2 separate regions of the Homo sapiens genome follow, and region 1 is linked to region 2. The links come from fine-mapping of genetic effects on gene expression. A gene starts in region 2. The other region holds a variant in brackets. All regions are shown on one strand. Distances are from middle to middle.

The links. PIP is the estimated chance that this variant, and not a neighbour inherited with it, causes the effect.
Region 1: its variant is the best candidate, but not a certain one, in a credible set for the expression of LINC02208 in thyroid (GTEx, PIP 0.62).

What each region holds. Positions count from the first base shown.
Region 1 is chr5:118,606,253-118,615,650 of GRCh38, forward strand. It overlaps LINC02215 (long intergenic non-protein coding RNA 2215), which reads left to right. Exons shown (of 5, transcript NR_104998.1): 2 at 3,487-3,625; 3 at 5,108-5,175; 4 at 8,041-8,099. Among named protein-coding and RNA genes, the nearest start is that of LINC02215, 15 kb to the left of the region's middle. The variant C/T (reference allele first, on the strand shown) is at 5,161.
Region 2 is chr5:118,557,917-118,567,314 of GRCh38, forward strand. LINC02208 (long intergenic non-protein coding RNA 2208) reads right to left here and starts at 4,201. Exons shown (of 10, transcript NR_104610.1): 1 at 4,005-4,201.

The DNA of each region.
Region 1 (9,398 bases), 48 kb after region 2:
ATAACTTTTTCTGATTTTTAAAAATGAAACCTATCAATTTTGTCTAGATTTTCCTAGAAAAATAATCATAGTTACACAGCTGGTATTTAAACTTCTATAAACCCTTACGTATATATTTCATTGTATATATTTAAAACATTGTATATATTTAAGACACAACAACAAAGCACTTAAGAACATAGCTATTTTCTCTGAGATATTCGACCTATTATTTGGATATACAACTATCAGAAAGAGGAGGAGTGCATGGTTATGACATCAACATTGGATATTCAGTTCTCCCGTAAATGTGGTGAATTCAACAGAAGAAAAAAAAGGAAGGAGAGAAGAAGGGATACCTTTACCTTACTAACTCTTTTCACTTAAAAAAATAAAGCCTCAATATTAAGATCACTAAAATTTATTTTAAAAAGTATTCCTAATCTCTTTATACTGTGTTTTAAAGACATTCAGTTAGAAAGAGATTTAAATAAATACAAATATCTGCACTACTATTAGTTTTATTTGTTATTAAGTGTCAACAGCTCAAACACTGCTTCTCACCCTGGGATTCTACCCCAGGTTTGGACAGACTCCTCTTTTAACTTGCCCTGAATTAACCTGGAGACCAAAGTTTGCCTGGGTGTCTTCACACTTCTAGTTCCTCTAGAGTTGCTTTATATGAAAAGCCCTTACAAACTGCTTTCATAATGTCAAATCATCCTTCTCCCAGTTTTTTTTTTTTCATTTAAAAAAGAGACCTAGCTAATTTAAAATTAGTCCTAAATAATGTATTTAATTTCTTCATATAGAAGGAGAGCCTAGGCATCCTTTCTGCTATCAGCACTCACCAGAGTGAGCATGTGTGAGCTCGCCCTGTGGGTGGCACCTGAGCTGCAATGAGTGCTCCAGCGTGCCTGACTCTGAGGCCCGAGCCCGTGCTGCACGTGTGGTACCCATGTTCTGGACAGCTTGCCCATCAACACCAGGCCTGACATCCTTTCTGTGGGAAACAGACACATAGAGCCAAATAGCATGTCTCGGTAGTCAGTCATTAACATGAAATCTCATGATCGCCATTTTATAAATACAAGACAGTCATTTCTACTTCTTTTTATCTTATTTGTAGCTTCAGCCTGTTCTTTTTCTGATTTAGATTGAGTAGGTCCTGTAAACAAAAGATTAGATACACAACTGATGTCTGAAAGAGTTTAGAATTATAAAAACAAGCTTTCTAAAACTTACCATTTAAAAATACATTGCATCATGAATTAGAAATCTCTAAACAATGATACAATGATCTCATCACCAAACAGGGATTTCCTGAGCCTTCCTGGCTAACTCGGATGTTACTGAGAAATACTTCTTCCTTTCTCCTTATATTTCCCTCCTGTGAAGCATGCTAATCAGTGTAATCCCAGATCACTTGTCCCAGTCTCACACTACTCCTAGGGACCAGGTAAAATGGGGGCAGTAGAAGGATGCAAGACTCAGCCCCCTTCCTTCTTCTGTACAACTAGCTTTATCTGAGGAAAGCATATGTTTGGCATAAGTTGTGTAGGGGGAGGCCTACCTCACTCTAATGCTAACTGGATTTGAACGGTTATGTCTGCCTAATTCTGGAGTTCAATATTAACCTGACCATTTCAATAACAGACTTTATATTTGATATTTTGGTATCTACATTTTCTCTGGTTTTTTGCCAACTTATCCAAAACCTAGAAAGGCAAGAGGGTTTGTTATGTTTTTAATGGGGGCACCAAACTTATGTGATACAGCATATACTTAGGAATTTAAAAGGTTCCCCCTTTAAATAATACAAGTTTAAAAAACATGTATTATTAGGCTTGAAGACTTTGTGGATAACTGGAAATAAATGTGCATTGTTATATTCTGATGACTAGAAGCACTCATCTGCAAGGAAATTGTCAGTAAATTATGAATTGTGTTATATACATAATTCAGCATTAGAATGTTGGAAACGCAATCACACTATACAGATGATTCACACCTAAACCATGGTGCATTGAAGAAAACTAGTGTGCAAAAGAACTGATTTAAAATACATTGTCCTTTCTCATAAAAATAACGTTAGGGTTCAATTTGTAATCCCAACGTGAAAGACAATATCAGATAAATCAGAGCCCTGATCAGTAAATATCTATTCAAATAATTCAAAAGAAATAGGTTAAAAAGATCCTTTGGAACTACTCACCCCAAGTATATTCTATGAAACATGAATCTATAAGATGTTTCATTCAATATAAAAAGTTTCCTTGATCAATGAAGCTTAGGGAATAAATTATGCTATTATCTCTCCTCCCGAAGCTTTACAATGTAGACTAACATATTAAAGGCTCTGTGAAGCCCAGCATAATTTGTTTTAACCCAGCATTCATCAAACACGTCTAATTGCAGAACATTATTTTCAAGTAGCATCAATTAATTCCCATGGAACACACTCTGGGAAATGTTATAATAGCAAGTATTATTAAGATGTAACACCCAGGCTGGGCGCAGTGGCTCACGCCTGTAATCCCAGCACTTTGGGAGGCCGAGGCAGGTGGATCACGAGGTCAGGAGATCGAGACCATCCTGGCTAACACGGTGAAATCCCATCTCTACTAAAAATACAAAAAACTAGCCGGGCATGGTGGCGGGTGCCTATAGTCCCAGCTACTCGGGAGGCTGAGGCAGGAGAATGTCGTGAACCCGGAAGGCGGAGCTTGCAGTGAGTCCAGATCGCGCCACTGCACTCCAGCCTGGGCAACAGAGCGAGACTCCATCTCAAAAACAAAAAAAAAAAAAAAAAAAAGATGTAACACCCAAATTCCATAAGGAACACTGATAGATAGCATATTGCCCCAGTTCTTGCACTCTTGGTGTTATCTGAAATGCAGGGGTAGGACTCACACTCCACAGAGTTTCATCAATGAATTTAAGTAGCAGCAAAATTTATATAATGCATATATCAAACATTACATTATGAGACTGCATAAAGACTGAGACTTGAGACTATCTGGGCACTTTACATGTATAAAATCCATTCACCTCACCAGCAATCACTGAGGTGGGGACACTGGAACGAACTTGACTCTGTCTTCCAAGGACCTTCATTGCATTCCTTGAGTTAGAATTAGCCAAGGATTTTCTCTCAGCTTTTTCCCAAGAAGGCCATCAACTTTCCTTCCTGCTACTACCACACCTGCCTTTCTAGTTGCCCAGATTGTAATGTCTCAGCTTCCCACCATCTGGATAATGACAGGCCATATAGAAGTTGTTAGTTGTCCACCTAACTCTCTACTGCAGTGGGAATTTCTTTAAATTCCATCTGCGGTTATCTATTCTGAGAGTCATGGTTCCCAAACTGTTTGCCAAGGTGTTCTCGGATACTACAGTAATCTCACAGGTAACTTATGTATATTATTTTTTCATAAAGCTGTTAAGTTGTTAGGTATAAATACTTAAATTGTTTGGAGCTATGTACTTAATAAACACAACTGCTAGGTTTTTCTTTTGGCCTAGGCGTGACTGTGAAAAATATACTGAATCACTAAGGGCACTAAGTTTCTGAAAGTGAGAAAGTTTGAAACCATCTGCCTCAGAGGTTTACAGAAAAGAAAATATCTAAGAGATTTCAGCCTAGGTAAGGAAACATTCATCCACAGATTTATCTCCCCCTTTTGTTAAAAAAAAAAGAAAACTAAAACTACCATAACAATGTTAAAAATCTAAAAAGTTAGTATTATATATGAAAAGATAACTCTCTACTGATATACTGAAACCAAAAAAATAACAAAGAAAGAGCTTTCTAAGTGTATAAAAACTTTATCTCTATGTCAGAGAAAATAATTCAATGCATTCTCCATTTTGAGTCTGAGGAATAAATAAGCCAACGAGAGATAAATACTCACTTTTAATGTTTTCAAGGAGAGAAACCAGTGAAAAGATGGTTCAACTCTGATGCACAGAAGCTGGATGGGTCACAATTGCTACAACTGGCATGATACCTATCTCCTGAAACCTGTTCTTTCTCCTTGGTTCTCTTCAAGGTCACAGTACCCTGCCACTCAGGCAGCTATAAGAATAGTCCCCAAGGAGTGTTAACATCTTTTAACTCTAAGCCACATTCCTCCCTAAAGAAAGTGTGCCTGAATTTGTGAAAGTCTGCATCCTGGAGCCAAGTACAGGAAACCAAGAAGCTAAGAAAATATTCCTGCCACTATTTCTATCTTTAATGCATAGCTTTCCATTCTTCTTTAAGTTCTCAGGGTTAAGGAGCTCAAATAATGTAAGGAGAACAAAAATGAACAATAAATTATTGAGTTTAGTCTGCAAATCCACCCAAGGCATGAAGATTTCCAGAACCCTGCCTAATGTCACCAGAGGATAAGAATCTTAATTACTTACTCCAGCAGTCATCATCTTCTTTCCATTCTCCAGCCTATTGTTTTTCTTCCCTTGATCAACTAGTCACATCCATCATCAAAGCCTGCTCCAATGACCTCTCTCTCCTTTTATCAGCACTCATGCCTATCAATCTGCAAATACTAGCACTACATTACCAGCTCGCTTCAAAGATTTCACCATGATCTTCTATAGGCATTCACAATCATCCATTTGAGTTCCAAATCTTAGAGAAACTATTAGAAATTTTATGTATCATCTTGTAACCCAACCCCTTGATTCTTCAGATGATGGAAATGGGTAACATTAAATGACTTGCCTGGGTTCACATAGGCTCACACAGATTTGGGGAAATATAAGTGTAGAATGTATAGAATCTACCTCTTCTATCTTGCTATAGGACATACTTTTTTCGTAGAGATGAGGTCTCCTTATGTTGCCCAGGCTGGTCTCAAACTCCTGGGTTCAAGCAGTCCTCCTCCCTCCTGCCTCCTAATCCCAAGTGCTAGGGTTACAGGCATGAGCCACCATGTCCAGCCACTATACTTTTATTAAGTCTCTAAAATAAGCCCAAATATACACTGAATATTAATGCATTGTAGGGATCATTTATTGCTGCCACAGCACAGGGGGTTTTAAGAGGGTTCAATTCAGCTCCACGATAACACCGTCCCATTCAACTGATTGATCGGCGCCCCGCTACCATCTTCTGGTCTTGCAGATATGCTGGAGTGTTGTGATACGAGGATGGACGTTCACATGGAGTAAGTCAGT[C/T]ACTGTACTGGACAGGTATGTCCCCTGATGGAAGGACACTACTCTAGCTGCCATTAATAAAATCTTTCCTGTATGTCCATAGGAAGGAGAGTTAATCTAGTCTTTTTGGGCAGATGTGGACAGGGCACCCTCTGGTGACAGCTGACCAATATTGCAGGTCAATACAAGAACCACAAAGATTCTGGGTGCTGAAACAATGACACTACTCTTCATAGTCTATTCTTGATGGACCTTTGTTTCCATGATAGAAATCTTCTCATCAGGAATTTTTCTTTACAAAAGTGCCTATGATCCCATTGTCCCAGAAGCACCAACCCCCAACTTTCTCTCGGGGCTGTGCTGTTAGGAAGCATGACCCAAACCCATTCTTTTCCTAGGACCCATGGTCTCTCTCGCCAATTTAGAGGATCTTTCAGACACAGGGAAAATTTCTTCTCTATGTTTATCAAAAACAATTTTTCTGTGCCTATAAATTCCCTTTTCTTTAGTACATAAAAGGTGCCTTGAAAAGTGTCTGATACACAGTAAGCACTCAACAAGCGAGCGGTTATTATTCTTTCTCTGTAGTCTTTTATAATAGGCCTTGATAGTGCAAGGCCTTGATTACTACCAGATCTAGAGCCAATCAAAAACTAATAATATCTGATGTTAATTAAATATTTAGTATATGCATACATTGGTTTAGTTGCTTTATATGTATTAACTCACTTAATACCCACATCTATCAGAGGTAGGTGTAACTTTTATTCCCCTTTTATAGATTATAAAATTGTAGCACAGAAAAAATAATTTTCCCAAAGCCACACAGCTAATCAGTGCTAGAGAGGGGATTTGAACCTGTGTGGTTTATCTCCAGGGCTCATGCCCTTAATTATCACACGAAACAAACTTTCTAAATCTCCCTTTCCTTGAAAGCAGAAAGAACTTGTACTTTAGACCCTCAGTGAAGCAAAGAATGGAGTTAAGCTTATATTAAAACTATGTTCCTATTAGTCCACACATTAATGATGAGGGGCCCCAAAGTATTGCAGCATATAAAATATGCAATTCTACTTTATAATAATTTTGAAAATTCTAAATAAAAATTTTTGGTTATAATAAACATTAATCCAACAGTTGATTAACAATACTTTGTATTGCCTTTTAGGATTCATAGTGTTACAGAAACCAAATTTTCACAATGTTTTAAATGCACATTTATTATTTAAAAAATATTTTTACACTAAGTACATTGTTATATGTGGTTTTGTCCAAACCCTTTAACTTTTCCACTTTCCCTGAAAGAAAAGTTAGATGTGAAATCATTTCCCAGTGCATATTTATCAGAAAGTTTTATGCCTAAATGATATAATCCAATATCTAGAGTCATTACTTTGAGAAAAATATTGATTTTAACTGTAAATGCCTAGCATTAAAAACATTAATAAGGGTTTAAAATTTATTCATTTGACTATCATGATCTGATTAACCACAGCTCTAAAAAACACTTAATTGTATGTTTCTGGGTTTTGGGGTTTTTTTTTGGTTTTTGTTTTTTTTTTTTTTTTTTGAGACAGAGTCTCACTCTGTTGCCCAGGCTGGAGTGCAGTGGCATGATCTCAGCTAACTGCAACCTCTACCTCCCAGGTTCAAGCAATTTTCCTGCCTCAGCCTCCCGAGTAGCTAGGATTACAGGTGCCCACCACCACTCTCAGCTAATTTTTTGTATTTTTAGTAGAGATAGGGTTTCACTATGTTGGCCAGGCTGGTCTCGAACTCCTGACCTCAAGTGATCCACCAGCCTTGGCCTCCCAAAGTGCTGGGATTACAGGCCTGAGCCACCACGTCTGGACTTAATCATATGTATTTTAACTCATGGCACCTAATTCTGCTATTAGATTTAAAGACATGTCTATAATGCAAAAATATCAGCCTAGATACATGTGCACTAGCCCCTACTGACATTTTCAACTGGCAAGTTGTCAAAATAAGGCCCTTCCAAGGATTCAGAGTCCCATCAAGCATATGTGCATCAAGCATCAATGCCACAGCAGGCATTAGGATCATGTATCTGGGTTCTCCTGGTATTTTAGATGCTCAACAGGCCACACCAATGCAACATAACCTAAATTTCACGTGCCCTCTCCTCCCAAATCTCCTCAACCTCCATCTGCTCTGTTATCATTAGCTCTGATGGCCATGGTAGAAACCTGTCAGATATGCTTCCCCTTCCCATCACTGGGTACCTAGCTTAACGAGGTAGAACTCACAAGTCACCAGTTCCTAAGGGTTATTTTTCCCTAAGAGCCCCCAAACTCAGCTTCCCTTGTCCTGATCTACCTTTGCTCAGATACTTGTAATTTCTACATGAATTTCTACAGCAAAGACCTCCCTGAGTTCGGGCTTATACTAATTGGTATATACACAGAATATTTTTGTTGTTGTTGTTGAGACGGAGTCTTGCTCTGTCGCCAGGCTGGACTGGAGTGCCACGATCTTGGCTCGCTGCAACCTCCACCTCCCAGGTTCAAGCGATTCTCATGCCTCAGCCTCCCAAGTAGCTGGGACTACAGGTGCCTGCCACCACACCCAGCTAATTTTTGTATTTTTAGTAGAGATGGGGTCTCACCATGTTGGCCAGGATGGTCTTGATCTCTTGACCTCGTGATCGGCCCACCTCGGCCTCCCAAAGTGCTGGGGATTACAGGCGAATGATATTTCTTTTTGTGGAAAATATTATGAAACTAACAGTTGCACAGTATTGAAAACACCTGTGTAACACAGAAGACATGTGAGGAAAAGTGAGTCTCCAACTCACCACACTTCAGCCCGCTTACTAGAGGCCATTACTTCTGTATCCATGAGAAAGTTCACACATGTTTTCTTTCTCTTTTAATACAGATGCAAACAAAATGTTGAACTTGGCCTTTCTGGTCTTCACCTCTCTTGGGACTGCTCAGGTAAGTGCAGGGCCAATGATCAGAACAGCCACTCCTTCAAAATGCACTTATGGTGCCCCTTGCCACTGGTCAACGATCTTACAAAAGTCAACTTCCTCCTGGACATGAAACAGCTTTAACTGAAGTGGTGAAAACGGCCTCCTTCCTTAGGTTTAAGAAGAGAGCACATAGAGGTGGAAGGTTTTTTCCTGGAGAGGCAATTTAGCTTATGGATTAAGTACACAGACTCTAATTTGGACAATTCAGGTTTGGTTCCTGGTTGTATCACTAATACACTTTGTGATCTTCAGCACAGACTAATGCAGGCAGAGGTTATAATCTCTTGTGTGCCTTTGTTTCTTGTCGGCACAGTAGGAATGATAACAATAGTATCTACTTCATAGAGTGGATATAATGATTTAAAGAGTTAATATTTGTTATTTGCTAATAACAACGCCTGGTGTATACTAAGTATTATTAAAACGTCTGTCATGTAAAATTTAAAGTAGTCTGCGAAATGCATTATATAAACACATACCCTGACTCAACGTGTTCCCACTCAGCTTTCTTACAACTCCTCCTCCACATCCTATCTTTGTAAGTAGTGGAACCACATGCAAAGATCACAAGTTACCAAATTAATCATTTCATGGTGTGGGTAAAATTTCAGTTTAAATCTTCAGTATTTGGATTTCAAATTAAGTGTATGATTAAGCATTAATGGTGTGTGATGATAGTTAACCTTAAAATGGGAAATATTTTTACAAAGAAATCTTTATTCCTTGTGAGCCAGTGAAAAATTATTTATTATGTATTAAATTTTTGCTGCTGCACAGCAACAGCAGATTGATGAGCTGTTACGGGCTGAATTATTCTCCAGGTTAAAGGTGACTTTTGGTTGTATTAATCACCTAGTGTAAAACTAAAGTAGACACGAGAGAGCCTTGCTTCTGACAACCCCCTGCACAGCCCTGCCCAGCCCAGCCCAGGCCAGCTTACTCGTTGTGAAAGCCGGTTCTTTTCTTGAAATGTTGGGTAAACCAAGGTCCCACTAAGATTGTCTTCCTTCATCCTGTACTGTCCATCAAGGTTCCTCATTTACACCGACTTTAAGTTTGAATCAAAAATTAGATTGAAGTTTAAAATGTCATTTTAAGCCAAAGAAAAGCCAACTTATCATTCTGAAAATTCCTCATGTAAAGAACGCTCCCCTCAGGAGCACAGCTCCACGCCACTGACCTGTTCTTTCTCTTCCTCCCCATCTCCTCCTCCACTTGACTCTCTTATGTGGTCACTTATCCACAGAAATTGCTATCACCC
Region 2 (9,398 bases):
ACCCCATTTCATTAAATTTTATAGTCTTCATTAATTACAGGGTCATACTCAGAAAGCAACAAGTAGGCTACAAGAAGGAAACAGGGGTGGAGGTGGCAGAGCCCAGTAGACAATTAATTGACTGTACTTTGCAATTCAGGACAAAACATTTTATTTACTTGTCCCAACACATACTTAGCCTGCCCTCTGGGCTTTCATAGCTCTTTCATTCTGGAATCCAATTCCAGAGTTTATGGCCTCCAAGGTTTATGGTCCTTCCCAAGGAAGCTCTCTTCACCTATTAATATGCATCATGGTTCTTCTTCTCAGAAGGGTGGTTCTTGTGAAAGCTAAGCAATTTTTATGTAATACACACCTGAATGGGAACTTTACAATGGATTTGGGTAAGACTTTTGTTTTTTGGTGTCAGTTTTACCTGTCGTTATTAAAGAGGTAAAGAAGAAAGAGGGGAAAGGAAGAGATAAAAATAATCCTACTGTAATTTTCATATCAAATAGAGTCCCCTATTGCTTGTCTTGTGGTTTCTGGGCAGACTATTGGTCTGAAATTCTAGACCATTAACAGTTCATTTGTCTATACTTAATTTTACAATGACACCAGAAAGAACAGCAAAAATAACAATGAAGAAAACTCACAGGCCTATTGCTCTGAAACTAAAGTTGCCAGTCATTTTATTTCCCAGCATTTCTCAAGCCCATTTCTTCATTCACCAGCAACTCACCCACCATTATTAGAGAGGATTTTTTACCACCCAGGAAAGCAAATGCTGTCATCCTGATTTTACTGCTCAGAAGATACTTGTCAATTAAAATCACCTCCAGGTCTTAGCTAGGAACAAAGACCAAATTCCAGAGATTCCCCTTGTCTTTCCCAAAATAGAGTTAGAGCTCATTTCCTAAATTTGTTCTGCCATTTACATTTGGCCACACTGCAACTTGTAGACATGGGGTTACTATTCACATATTAAAACTTGCTTATTTCCAAATAAACATCTGTAACTTTAAATGCTCATATAGCCACTATATAGATTTAACTAATTCTAAGATATATCTTATATCTTATGTAAGATATATCTTGAGTAAGCATATTAAACAAATGCCTTTTCAAGTAAGAACTATTTTCATTGCTGCCTTCTGGTTTCTGAGTCATCTCTGTCTCACTCTTATAACTACATGTCTCCCAAAAGCCACCTAGTACCATAACATACGTATATATTTATAAAATGCTAGTAACATTTCATTCCTGCCTCTTTGATATGAAGGTCTTGGAAATACATGTTTTCTCTGGACTGCTGTTTTTAACAATAATAGAAAGAAAGGAGTAATAACAATCATGGCAAATATTCCTTGAGTTTTCATAATGTACCAGGCACTGAGCTAAGCATCTTTCAACATACACAATCTCACTTAATTCTTAATACTCCTGTCTAGAAGGTAGGTACTATTATGATTATTACTATTTTTTACAGAGGAATAAACTAAGGCATTTGCCTGTGTTCCAGGGATAGCCAAGGATTCAAACTTACATCTTTCCAGTTTCAGCATCCAAGCTCTAAACTGCTATATACCAGGGCATAGAAATAGGACTACCAGCCATAGCTTTGATTCAGAGGAAAAAAAAAAACAAAAACATGGCACAAATGTGTATAACATATTTAGATAGTATAGTTTAAAACTACAAATATTTTTTCTCTTTGCCAGTATAATACATGCATAATTTGTGAATTAAAACTTAATTGAGCGCACCACAATTGGAAAATTACAAAATACTTAAAACTTACATCAATTCAGCCTCCATTCCATTATCAAGAGAGAGGCTGTTTATGCATTCCTATTCTGGCAATTAAGGACAACTATGTTTTCTAAAGTGAAGGTTATTTTGACTTTGATAAGTATATAGCTCACTGTCTGATCATAAAGGGCCAGAGCTGAAGATGAATAACAGAGTACTTTGTCCTTCACTTCAGGCATGATGGCTGGACCTCTGTGGTTGTAAATCTTCCAATATTTGATGGCCACAGTGTCAGCAGCAAAATGATGCATAATAAACACAACAATACATTATATGCCACTTCTTGATTTGGTGCCAAGTCAGGGAAGGAAACAGTCTACTTTTGAATGGGTGTTCTGAAATAATACATAGACAGTGTGTATTGGAGAGATCTGAAGAGGAAAACTCAAGCTGGTTTTTCATCCCACAGTCTCCAAACTATTATTCTTTGAAACTGACTATCTGGAGTGATGTGAACCCCTCTACCACCACTGTTGGGTTGATATCAGGAAGCACAGAGTCCACAGGCTTTCATCTAGCCAGGAAAAAGGAAACAGAGCTTATTTTGAACAGGAAGGAAAAAAGATATGTGATGAAAGTCAAAGAAACAAGCTGCCTAAATCCTTGACAAAGTAGAGATGAAAGGAATGAGCTTGTGAAATAATGTGGATACCTAAAAATCATGTTTCAATCATGTTTTTAATTGTCCATTCTATCCAGAACGTTTGTTGCAAAGTCTAAAACCTTCCTTTACAATGAAAAGAGAAAATACCGTTCTAAGGCATGCATCTATAAAACGGTATTTCTCAGGCACTAAGGAAAATGCAAGCTCTAGAAAAGGAGTGATGTGGGAGAGGCACACATGGCTTCAACTGTGACAGCTGTCTCCCCATGCAACCAAATCAGAGACTGCTGGTGCAAGTGGGGACCTCAGAAGTCACTGGGTCCAACCCTGACTTTTTATAGATGACAGGCTTAAAACTGTTAAGTAACGTGCCCAAGGTCATGCTTGGGGTTGTATTGTCTGAATAACAAATGGCAAATGGACAAAAACAAAAGAGATCATAGTCTAAGTTACTCAAAGACTTTCTATAAGGAAAATGGTGGTAATTATGGTCCCTAAGTCCACTTATCTACCAAAGCTTAATATAAGACATCCAAGAAATATATATAGATACATATATAATCTATATATGTATGATTGTGTGTGTATACATATATGTATAGATATGTATATGTGTGTGTATATATATATATATACACACACACACATTTCCTAAAGCAGGAATTTTTTTTTTAAATCAGATATTCTGTGAGACATACTTGCTTTATTCAGTATCAGTTTAGGGTTTCTCACTCAGTTGTTCTTTCTAGAAAGGATATTTGTAAAGTCCAGGATTTATTCTCAAGGAGTAAAAGCAAAACCAAACATTTGTGTCCCTTTCATTTGAATCTCATGTCGAGTCTGTAAGTGCAAAAGCACTTACATATCAGTCAACCAAATTCTTACTGTCAAATCTAGATGTACAGAGCTTGCAATAGAGAAATGTAGATACTTTCTAGTTTCTCTGCATTCTACCATCTTACCCCAGGAGCTCAAAAATGACTCTACCCTTTTCTGGAAAATAGTACAAAGGAAAATTCCTGGGTTGTTTGGCTTCTCATAGTCCCAGAACTTGGGCTATATCTGAAAGTTCCAGTTGACATCTGTCCAGCACTGAACACTGGCTCCAATTCACAAGATGGCCTACCCAAGACTAATCTCCATCTACAAGTACCCTTGGAAGATGGGATGGACTCCATACAGGCCAGAGGCTGTGCATGCTCCCTGCAAATCTTGGAACTTCACCCAGGAAACATTAAGGTGGACATTCAAAATGGTAAAAAGACTCCTTCTGGCCTAAGCATCCCCTCACACACCTCTCAATGCCATAACTTACCCATAAAACAATCAGAGTTCAAGACGATAATTATTTCCCTAAGGCCAAGTTCACTATGATCTGGTCTCCAAGAACTTCTCGTTATTATCAACTACTGTGGGCCAATCCCAACTATATAATCTTTATAAGTGTTATATTCATTCATATTTCTATAAGTAATATATCTTCTTATTGCCTGCACCCTGGGCAAATTGCCTTCATATTTCCCACTCCCACCCCAGCCTGGAGAAATAGGCAACATTCAAATTGTTCTCTCAGCCCTCATCCCTCTAATGATCACCAACAAAATCCTACCTGCAACCAGGACTCTCACTTCGGAGTATAGTTTCTGAGATAAATCAAAATTTTTCTTCTCCTTCTTCCCATCCTTTCTTGGTCTTCATTTCATACAGATAATAGCATGTAGAAAAAACATGAAAGGAAAAGTGATATTCACTGAAGAGCAACTCAAGGCATATGTGTGGACACAGGGAGAGGCAACCCCTCCCAATCGGGTGGGTGTGGGTGATAGGTCATGTGTGTATAACCTCAGATCTTTGTTAGCACCAGCAGCTGGAACACACTTCTCTCTACAAATAGCAGGCTCCTGGAGTTTCTCAGCATCAGCAACAAGAGAACCTGTCAAAGAAGTGGGCCGGAGATATCGCCCTGCTTCTCATACACATAACTGAAAAAAAAGCAAAAGAAAAATATCATTTCACTGCCAGCCTAGTTTGAGTCTATATATATATATATATATATATATATATATAGTATATATATATATATATATATATACTATATATATATATATATATATATATATATATAGACTCATATATATATATATGGGGGGCAATTATGTGTACCGGACTACAGTACTGGCCAGACCCCATGAACACCTAAGGATGAATGAGGCCCAGCCCCGCCCTCACGGATATAACAATTTAGACAGAAAGATTTACATAAACGTTCATATGACTAGCTACAAATTCCTAAGCCAATGTCCAAATTAATGTACCAAGAACAACCCTAAAATAGAATAATTTTTATTTTTTCTTTTAAATAAATATTCCACGTGAAAGCTATCTATTTCAAAACACTTGCCATAATAAGGCAACACATTCTAATTCACAGTTCTGTTTTTCAAGTTTTGAATCTCATTGTAACTGCTTTCTGAGTAGTTGCGCAAGGAGGGGGGAAAACAGGAGTGGGGAAGGGAGGAGTATTTTCTCCCTAAAATTGTTTAGAATTATAGACTTGTGATGGTAATACAAAAGACACTGTATCTTAATCAGTTCTATTTCTTTAAACATTTCTATAGACAATATATCTTCTTATTGCCTGCACCCTGGGTAAACTGCCTTCATATCCCCCGCTGCCCAGCCTCTGCCTGCCACTGTTTCTGAAGGGTGTATTCATCCCAATAGGCTCAATGATGTCCAATCTATTCTTTTCACCAGATGCAGAGTCAAATCTAATGAATAAAACAGAGGGTCAAGCCTGGCAATACTACTATAGGGCAGAAAGCAAGTATGGCTTTACACTGAGAGTGTGGTTGTCAAATGCTGCCCCTGACAGCAATACCACCAGAAGAATCACTTCAATGTTTTAAGCAAAAACAGAATTGTTGAAATAGGTGTATAATCTCCTATGTTAATCTAGGCAGACCATGAACAAAAGACTGCAAAATCTCAGTGATACAATGCAAAAAAAAAAAAAATCAATTTCTCACCCCTGCTGTATTTTTCACATGGATTATCACAAGGACTCTACTCCTTGTGATATCGCACAGGTCTAGGCTGACACAAGCCCCATCTCAACATTTGCTTCCATGATGGTGGTGGCAGTGTAAGTGGATCTTTTAAAGCTTTCTCCTGGGAGTGACACAAGTCACGTCTGCTCACATTCCATTAGTTAAATAAAGTCACATGGCATACCCAACTTCCACAGTGTTGGAGGAGTAGAACCGTGCCAGGTTTTTGGCAGGAGAAAGGCCAGAATATTGGTGGGTAGCCTCTGACTAACGCCTCCCATGTATTATCATTCCTTAAAGAGGCCAAGAATCATTTGCATGTAAATTTTGGAAAATTAGTTTTAAAAAACATCCTCACTATTATATGGTCACTACCATGTGTTAGATTTCTTTACATGCCAGAGCTACAACACAGTTGAAGAAGCCATTTATTTTTATTTTTATTTATTTATTTTTTTACCCAGGCTGGAGAGCAGTGTTTTCATCTGGGCTCACTGCAACCTCCGCCTCCCAGTCTCAAGCAATTCTGCTGCCTCAGCCTCGAGGTACCTGGGACTACAGGTACACACCAATACGCCTGGCTAATTTTTTTTTTTTTTTTTTTTTTGGTTGAGCTGAGATTTTGCCATATTGCCCAGGCTATTCTTGGACTCCTAGGCTCGAGTGATCCACCCACCTTGGCCTCCCAAAGTGCTAGGATTACAGGCGGAAGCCACCACACCCAGCCTCAAGAAGCCATCTTAATGCTTGTGGTTCACTTGTAAGGTGCAGGCAGGTTTGTGAGAGGCATCTGTATGACTGACAGGGGATGCAGCGTGGCATAAAGGAGGTAGGAAGGAAGCTGCCATTCCAGGTGGACTCACCTGTGCCAAGCACTGCTTTACACTGTACACACAGTATCTCATTTACTCATCCCAACAGCCCTGCAAGGTAGGTGTCACTATCCTCATTTAAAAACTGACAGAAATGGAGACATAGCTTAAAATACACTGTGCCAGCCAATGTCATGGGTAATAATGTTCAAACTCAGATCTGCCTAGTTCCAGAAGCCATGGAGTGGGTCACGTGAGGAAGTCCAAATGATACAAATTCCCTTATTACTTTATCTGCATCCCTTTTATAGCCCTTCTAATGAGGCAACTGATTTTAAAATGAGAATGTGCTAAGCTCTCTAAGAATAGGGACTTAGCTCCATTCATCTTTGTCTGACTGGTAATGACTAGCAAATACTCTAGCACATAGTAGGTGCTCAAGAAAATATTAATTGTTAAATGCATGTTGAAAGTCAAGGCTATGCTCCAAAGCAATATTCCCTTTCTCTTCTCCTGCACAGCACATGAAAGGAGATTGACAAGATGAAATGTTTCCTTAGTGATTCTCAAGAAAGGCAAAGCTGTCAACATTTTCTTTTGTCAAGAGTGTTCACTAAGCAAGAAAATAGAGAGTAGCTCCCACAACGCAGACCTGAACGTGAAGATAATGGTCAGCAGGGCTCTGCAAGCTGTCTGAGTTCCCACTCCCAATAAGCTTTCGATAGGAACTTGCCTGCCAGAGAAACAGAGGGAACCTCATTTTGCTAGGAGACAACACACAGCTGCATAGTTCCATACTCCGCTTAATCCCAGAGACAAATTCACAAGTTGTCCTAAATGTATCACTCTACTGGGAACTCTTTTTTCTTTTCTATTTCCAACCAGTGTCTGCCATTTGATATATCACAAATAAATCATGTTTCTCTCTGTCTGTCTGACACACACACACACACACACACACACACACACACAGGCACACACAGAAATACACACACAACCTTTCTATCTTAAAAAGGTTACATTCATTTTGGGTCTCCTCTAAAACTGCCATGCAGGCCACTGGAAGTCACAACATGATATTGTTTCTTTACAAAGATACTATGATTTTCTCCTGTGGTGAAGGATTACTGCGGGCACAGCTCCATCCAAGAATCCTTTCTAAGCTTTTTCTTTTAAGCACATAAGCTATGCTTTTAATTGGGCATTTCATTAGAGTAGAATGAGGCGTAAAGGAAAACAAAATGGTCTGTAGTCATTTGTTTCAAGGAGATCATTCCAGTCATCAACGTCTGAACCCTGCCGAAGTCGTTTCAATTTTTCTTCTCAACCATGGATAAAGCAATGTTGACAACACATATTTCTCTCTGTCAAAACATTCCACTTACTTGGCAATCTATAGACAGTTTGAGAGTCGTAGCACCAACAAGCAGCGCTGGAGCATTCTTCCTATTATTTTAAAATCAAAATGGCACGTGCCTCGTGAGAGGGTTACCATGTGGGCCGAGATCCAAATTGAAAAGAAAAACGCTAACAGAGTCAGCAAGTAAACAGGGCACTGTAAATAACAAGCCTCATTACTTAGCCACAGAGAAAGATGGGCCAGCCTGCGTCCCATTTCATTGTGAGGGCTTGATCCTGTTGCCCTTAGATTTCAGTCTCCTGGGAGGCCACTCCGGGATTTCTGTGAGATGTGTGCTCAGTTAAAGTACCAAGCTTAGGTTCACAATTGTGAAACATGTTTCATACCATGGGATCTAAGTAAATGATGATTTTTGGCTGGGAGTGAGCAGAGGAAAAAGTAAAATCACTGGTTAAAGAATTGTATCCAAATACCAGAGAAAGATGGGCCCTCTAGATGTGCCTTACATAGGACAAAGAACGGGAGACCAAAATTAGACACACACTGACAAAACTGCTTATGGATCCCACAGATGACTATGGTGTAATCATCTCAAAGTGACTCATTTTCAGTGAGAAATATTTAAAAGAAATAATGCTGGAGAAAATGGCAACGTGCTGCCCAATAATGGCCTCAGGCTGCAAGATAGATACTGCAGGGCATCCAGGCCACAGCACTGGCAGAAAACAAACATTGAAGCAAAGCTGAAACACTTATTGTCAAGGCCAGAGAACATTTACCAGTCAGGAGGTTCAGATTCATGGGCATTATTGTTAAAGCTCGTGGGAGAAATACACCCAAAAAGCAGCAAAGAGAGTCGATAAAAACCCTCCAAGCAATCACCAGCTCACCAATCGGCAGCCACACATCTCCCCAGGCTCTCAGGGGAGAAGGCACTTTACCAATTACTGCTGATTGGCTGGGTTAGTGAAATTGCTCAGACCTCCTACCATTCACCTCCAGCCTATCTTTCAATATATCTTGCTGGGGTTTGCTGAACTTATTTTCATCCATTTATAAAAGGTCAACTAGGCTATGTGTTGACTTGACAGTAGTAAGTGCTTCTCCTATAATCCCTGATGATATTAGTCTGGCGGGGTTTCACAAGTGTGCGGTTGATCTTTCTTAAAAAATTCCATGATTTGCGAAGTTGGTACCAGCTGTTATCACTTTAATAGAGATCACTGTATAATTTCAAAATATCTTACTTTCTCTAAAACTATTCTGATGCTCAAAACTGTCTGGAGCTCAGAAATGTGCTTCTTGCTTCTGTCTCTTAAATGGATGGGTTAATTAACTGCAGTCATCATGCCATTAAGCTGGGCTATGACCCAGGGATCAGGCTTTACCAAAGCCGCTGCGTTCCGGAATGTTCCTATAGACACACACAGGTATGGACAAGGGGGTATGTGATGATTAATATTGAGTGTCAACTTGACTGAAGGATGCAAAGTATTGTTCAAGATGTGGTTTCATTGCTTGAGCAAATTAACACATCTCCTGGTACCTGGTATGCAGCCATTGATTTGGCAAATGACTTTTTCTCCATGCCTGTCCATAAGGCCCACCAGAAGCAATTCGCCTTCAGCTGACAAAGCCAGCAATATATCTTTGCTGTCCTACCTCAGGGGTATATCAACTCTCTGGCTTTGTGTCATAATCTTGTTTGGAGAGAACTTGATCACTTTTCCCTTCCACAAGATATCACACTGGTCCATTACATTGATGACATTACGCTGATT